2 linked regions of the Homo sapiens genome follow. The protein of the gene in region 1 purifies or fractionates together with the protein of each later gene. This does not show direct contact. Each region holds a gene or a part of one and is shown in the gene's direction. Other genes may lie near its edges.

Region 1 (4,400 bases):
CCTTTCTGTGGGAAGGGAACTCCTGGCTTCCTTTCATCAGCACTGGCTCACCAAGTCCTGCGTGGCCAGAACTTGGCAGGTTGCCATGGATACCTGGAAGTGCTGTCCCAGCAGACAGCAGAGGCTTGCTGGGGCCAGGAGAATGTGGGGGCACCTGAACTGCTGGCCAGAAAGGCTAGATAAACAGGCCCCCCTGCCACCCTCATTTTGATCAGACCCCCTCCACCAGTCTCCTAAAACAGGGCTTTCCAAACTTTACCGGGCACAGGAATCCCCCTCTCCGCCGACCTAGTTAAAATGCAGATGCTGGCCGGGCGCGGTGGTTCACGCCTGTAATCCCAGCACTCTGGGAGGCCGAGGCGGGTGGATCACAAGGTCAAGAGATCAAGACCATCCTGGTCAACATGGTGAAACCCCGTCTCTACTAAAAATACAAAAAATTAGCTGGGCATGGTGTAGTCCCAGCTACTCAGGAAGCTGAGGCAGGGGAATCGCTTGAACCCAGAAGGTGGAGGTTGCAGTGAGCCAAGATTGTGCCACTGCACTCCAGCCTGGGCGACAGAGTGAGACTCCATCTCAAAAAAAAAAAAAAAAAAAAAAAAGCAGATGCTGATTCAACAGGTCTGGGGCGGGGGGTAGAAGGCGCTGAGATTCTGTTTTCCTAACGAGCTCTCAGGTACTGCTGCTGGTCCACCGGCCACACTGAGTAGCCAGGGCCTAAACTGAGTCCTGGTGGGTTTCAGAAACCTCAGCCAGATTCTGAAGGTCCCATTCCTGGACCCACTGCCTTAGGCCACCACTACCAGCCCTAACCCCAGTGGGAACCTCTTGCCTTCTTGTAGTGGAAGGACTCTCTCCAGTCCGTTTTTGTATCATTCACCATCAACCACTTCAAAGAAAGGAAATCAGCAGCCGGCATTTTGGGGAAACATTTTAAGCTGTCCTGTCCCTTCTCCAGCTCTCCAAGTTATATAATGCGTCCTTGTTGAAAATGCTGATAATGCTGTTTGGGTGGCAGGAAGCCAATTTCAGGCTACATATTGCTTGGGGCTGGGGCTGGGGTCAGGGAACGGGGCAGGGTCTGGGGAAGGTTTAAGGAGAGAAAGGGGCCAGGCAGATGGAGAGAGGACAGGAGGGCCAGGGTGGTCAAGGCCCGGGGATAAAGCCGATTGGTATGTCAGCAAAATCTGTCACTGGCTTTAGTGATTCGAAAGGCAGACACATTCTTTCATCTCTGTTAATCCTCATGTGATACAGAGGATTTTCCTGCCATTAAATCTGGAGAAAGAAAAATAAGCACTCAAACCTGCACAAGTAACTATTCCTCTTCACCCCTTCCTCCCGTCCCCCCACCCCCACCTTTACTTCTCTCTCAAACCATTTTCAGCATCTGTGGCTGCCTGACTTGGGAGATGGATGGGCTGAGGGAGTGGAGGGGGACCTCAGAGGAGCAGGACCAGGGAGACTCCCAGGACGGTAAGCAACATTTGAGGACCATTCACTAACGCTTCTCTGCAGGGGTTTCCTCTCCATCCATTTCCTTGCTGGGTTGTCAGTGATGCCATCTGAGTTGCTGTCAGGGCTGTAGCCTGACAAAGGGTTTCCTAATAGATCCAAACTGTCCATTTGTGGGGAGCTTCTGATTTTCTGTTGTTACTGGTTTCCCTTAGCCCAACACCAGGGTCATTAAGAAGGAAGGAATGTGAGGAAGAAAGAAAGGCAGGGCATTCAGGAAGAAGTGTGGAGGCATGGGAGGGTTCTCATGGGGCCCTCCTGGGCACTGGGTGACCTGTCCTTTCTCCCCTCAGGTAGGGGTCCCACGGCTGGGTGGTCCTAAGCCACTGGGTGGATGAAAGGCCGAGGGATGTTGGTCCTGCTTCTGCATGGTGAGTTCTCCTGCCGGTGGGTGCAAGGGTTGGGAAGAGGGGTGGAAGCCACAGAGCTTCTGCCCAAAGAGTCTTTAAAGTGGCTTCTGGGACAGCGGTATCTGGACACTTCTGATCAGGTTTCACTGACCCTGTGATCGTGGGGGAGGGGATAGAGAAAGCAAGAAAACAGCAGGTGGTGGGGATTTTTGTTTCCTAAAAACAAAACTCCTGAGCCGAATATATGAAATAGTCCTCTTGGTGATTTTCTTATTCTAATTTCAGATATGAATTCATTGGTGTGATAACCAAAAGCTACAGTGCTACAGTGTTTTTTTGTTTTGTTTTGTTTTTGGAGATGGAGTCTCGCTCTGTCACCCAGGCTGGAGTACAGTGGTGCGACCTCGGCACACTGCAAGCTCCGCCTCCCGGGTTCACGCCATTCTCCTGCCTCAGCCTCCCGAGTAGCTGGGAGTACAGGTGCCCGCCACCACGCCTGGCTAATTTTTTGTATTTTTAGTAGAGACGGGGTTTCACCATGTTAGCCAGGATGGTCTCGATCTCCTGACCTCGTGATCTGCCCGCCTCGGCCTCCCAAAGTGCTGGGATTACAGGCGTGAGCCACCGTACGGTGGTTTTTTCTTTTCTTTTCTTTTCTTTTTTTTTTTTTTTGAGACAGAGTCTCACTCTCGCCCAAGCTGGGGAGCAGTGGCATGGATCTTGGCTCACTGCAACCTCCGCCTCCCGGGTTCAAGTGATTCTCGTGCCTCAGCCTCCTGAGTAGCTGGAACTATAGGCACCTGCCACCACGCCCAGCTAATTTTTTGTATTGTTAGTAAAGACGGGGTTTCGCCATATTGCCCAGGCTGGTCTTGAACTCCTGACCTCAGGTGATCTGCCTGTCTCGGCCTCCCAAAGTGCTGGGATTGCAGGCATGAACCACCGTGCCCAGCCTACAGTGGTTTCTAATCACATTATTTTAAGCTCATTTAGTTAAAAACAAAAGTCCCTTTAAAAAACCACCTTCCTAAAGGAAAAAGAAAAAATGAAAAATGCCTTGGAATTATAGGATTATGGATATTGAAGTTATTTTTCAAAGTTTCTCGCTCTGTTATGTGCACTTTAATATACCAAGAAGACTCGTTATGAAATATTTTCCCTGGCTCTAGCTGTTCCAATCTGACTGAGATAGCCCAAGGAAAAATCCTTTAAATTCTTCAGTAAATGATTCTACACAAAGAATCTGTTTTTTTCTGACCCTCAAGTGAATTTAATTATTTGAGATATGATGATCTATGTAATAGACCTCTGTATGCGATGCTGATAGAGAACATTTTACCAGATCATCTAAAACAGGAGTAATGGAGTTTTCTTCCTCTTTATTCCACCTTTTCAAAAACCGGAACTTGCTCTGTTCAGTCAACCAACAGGCATACACTGTGTGCCTTCAAAACGCTCGAGAGATATTTATGAGGGATATAATAGCATGCTCTTTGTCTTTGAGAAAATTCTTTTATAAGAGATTCAATAAATAAGCAATAAAAAAAATTGGAGCAAGGCACGTGGAACACTGTGATAAATAGGACATGACTTCCTACCTCGAAGAGGTTCTAAAGAACAGAGGTTGATATTTATATAATTACTAACAGTCAACTTCTTGCCATTCCTCCTACCTTGAAAAAAAAATGAAACTTGATTGACTCATTGGGGCACAATGTTTGCTTCCAACAGCCAGTATCATTTTAAACGTGCACCAAAAGCTCTACCGTTCCTCACAGAAAGCAGACCGTATTCATAGCCTGCACACTTCAAAACAGGAACTGTCCCTGCTACAGAAACCCGAAATATATCCAGACTTCTTGTGACAAGTTGGAGAGCTCAGCGGTGACATCATTTGCTAACAATAGATGCACTTAAAATTAATGACCATCTCCACATCCCCTGGCACTTTAATTTAAAACACACTCTAGCAAGCACAGAGAATATTTCTCTGACTGCGAGTCACAAGCAATACGGACAATATGTTCCCGAGAAGCAGGCAGGGATAGTGCTCTACCTCCTTGGCCAGAAAGAAAATGACTAAGTGAGCCTCACAAAACAACACCTTGGAGAAATCAGAAGTGGCTCGCAGCAGGGAAATTTGGGGCAAGAGAAATTCTCCTCTGGACACACAGGGCTCCTGGAAGTGCCCCACTTCTCAGATGCATAAGTGCAAATACCTCCACCTCCTCCCCCCATGTTAACCCCTGGGGTCTTCCCGCTGTTCACAGCATAATATCTGAAACCCTTAACTTCTTTTACAGGGTCTTTCACATGTGACTTCCTCTACACTGAGTCTTCAAAGAGAGTCAGGGGTTGTGTGTTTGTGTTTTTTGTGTGTGTTTCTTTTGAGACAGGGTCTCGCTCTGTTGCCCAGGCTGGAGTGCAGTGGCATGATCTCAGCTCACTGCAACCTCTGCCTCCCGGGTTCAAGTGATTCTCGTGCCTCAGTCTCCAGAGTAGCTGGGATGCGCCACCACCACACCTGGTTAATTT
Region 2 (2,537 bases), on another chromosome or scaffold:
ATCAGAGTGTTGGGTATTTACTGCAAATACCCGCCAAGTCAGTCGATCCTGCTTATCTGGGAATTTACCTACTGTTTCCATTCCTTTCACTGATGACATTTCTTTTTTCTTGAGATGGCGTCTCGCTTTGTCACCCAGGCTGGAGTGGAGTGGCGTGATCTTGGCTCACTGCAACCTCCGCCTCCCGGGTTCAAGCAGTTCTCCTGCCTCAGCCTCCCAAGTAGCTGGGATTATAGGCATGTGCCAACACGCCCAGCTACTTTTTGTATTTTTAGTAGCGATGGGGTTTCATCATGTTGGCCAGGCTCGAACTCTTGACCTCAAGCCCACCTCTGCCTCCCTGCCAAAAGGGGTGGGATTATAGACATGAGCTACTATGCCCAGTCCACTGATGGATGACATTTCTAATAAGTGGCAAATAGTATCATTCTGCTTATTGTGGAAGGGTAGTAACAAACCATCCTATTAAATGGATGTGTTATATTTATTTTGCGTTCTCTTCCCTCAACAGATGGAGCAGCATATTGTATGGGACGTATGAATTCTGACTGTTGGTATGTTTAATGCAATTTTGTGGATTTTTGTTGTCCTATGTAAGATTTAAACTGCCAATTGTCATTTTTAGGAACTATTTTTAATTTTTATTTAGGTACTTATATACTCTGGATTTCCCAGAGAGTCGGGTAATCAGTCAGCCAGATCAAACCTTGGAAATTCTGATGAGTGAGCTTGACCCAGCAGTTATGGACCAGTTCTACATGAAAGATGGTGTTACTGCAAAGGATGTCACTCGTGTAAGCATTTTTAGTAATAATTGTTGCTGGACTCTTCTGCGTGGGGACTAAATTTTATTTTTCATTCTGTAACTTTTAAGTTCAGGGTAACAAGTGCTAGTTTGTTACATAGGTAAACTTGTGTCATGGGGGTTTGTCGTACACAGTATTTCGTCACCCAGGTGTTAAGCCTAGTACCCATTAGTTATTTTTCCTGGTCCTCTCCCTTCTCCCACCCTGGGACTAAATTTTGGACTCAATTGAAGTTTATTTGTCAAACCCTTGTTAAACTCGGTCTTTTTCCCCCCCCAGGAGAGTGGAATTCGTGACCTGATACCAGGTTCTGTCATTGATGCCACAATGTTCAATCCTTGTGGGTATTCGATGAATGGAATGAAATCGGATGTGAGTAGTTATATATTGCTTCAATAATTATTTAAATGTGAATAGTCTTTCCATTCTTAACACTGTGAACTTTTTCTCTCAGGGAACTTATTGGACTATTCACATCACTCCAGAACCAGAATTTTCTTATGTTAGCTTTGAAACAAACTTAAGTCAGACCTCCTATGATGACCTGATCAGGAAAGTTGTAGAAGTCTTCAAGCCAGGAAAATTTGTGACCACCTTGTTTGTTAATCAGGTAATTTTATATTTTATTATTAATCAGGTTATTTGATTTTTAAAATCTTAAAGGAAATGAGACAGTGAGGCCTAAGATGTATTCTGAGATAGCACATATACCAGCCACTCAGATATCCAGAAGTAATATTGTTTGAGGTTACTGGTAGCTGAGAAGCTTTGTTTCATTAGACCTGTGTCAGTCCTTGTTTTCTGTCTAGCCAAACTGATGGGTTCCTCCTGTCTTGCTATTGACAGGCCTCTGGTGGGAGGAACCATAAGATGCCCTGGCCCCTCCAGCACATAAGAAGGCAGCTAAAATAACTCAGATGTCTTAGTTTCATTAAGATAAAAGTCTGTCACTTAACTGTTTTGGTTGAAAATACTTCTCTGGATTGCAAACACTAACGGTTATTTAATTTTTTCCCCCAGAGTTCTAAATGTCGCACAGTGCTTGCTTCGCCCCAGAAGATTGAAGGTTTTAAGCGTCTTGATTGCCAGAGTGCTATGTTCAATGATTACAATTTTGTTTTTACCAGTTTTGCTAAGAAGCAGCAACAACAGCAGAGTTGATTAAGAAAAATGAAGAAAAAACGCAAAAAGAGAACACATGTAGAAGGTGGTGGATGCTTTCTAGATGTCGATGCTGGGGGCAGTGCTTTCCATAACCACCACTGTGTAGTTGCAGAAAGCCCTAGATGTAATGATAGTGTAATCATTTTGAATTGTATGCATTATTATATCAAGGAGTTAGATATCTTGCATGAATGCTCTCTTCTGTGTTTAGGTATTCTCTGCCACTCTTGCTGTGAAATTGAAGTGCATGTAGAAAAAACCTTTTACTATATGAAACTTTACAACACTTGTGAAAGCAACTCAATTTGGTTTATGCACAGTGTAATATTTCTCCAAGTATCATCCAAAATTCCCCACAGACAAGGCTTTCGTCCTCATTAGGTGTTGGCCTCAGCCTAACCCTCTAGGACTGTTCTATTAAATTGCTGCCAGAATTTTACATCCAGTTACCTCCACTTTCTAGAACATATTCTTTACTAATGTTATTGAAACCAATTTCTACTTCATACTGATGTTTTTGGAAACAGCAATTAAAGTTTTTCTTCCATGAGTTGAGTCCTTAAGAAA

The links.
Region 2: the proteins of NYX (region 1) and AMD1 purify together in Homo sapiens (affinity purification with mass spectrometry, with the first as the bait; one large-scale study listed by BioGRID). This does not show direct contact.

What each region holds. Positions count from the first base shown.
Region 1 is NC_000023.11:41,446,041-41,450,440, forward strand, and holds the start of NYX (nyctalopin precursor), read left to right. Parts: upstream 1-1,302; 5' UTR 1,303-1,476; exon of another isoform or gene 1,477-1,808; 5' UTR 1,809-1,864; coding exon 1,865-1,886; intron 1,887-4,400.
Region 2 is NC_000006.12:110,891,650-110,894,186, forward strand, and holds part of AMD1 (S-adenosylmethionine decarboxylase proenzyme), read left to right. Parts: intron 1-511; coding exon 512-554; intron 555-649; coding exon 650-794; intron 795-1,085; coding exon 1,086-1,178; intron 1,179-1,260; coding exon 1,261-1,416; intron 1,417-1,826; coding exon 1,827-1,967; 3' UTR 1,968-2,537.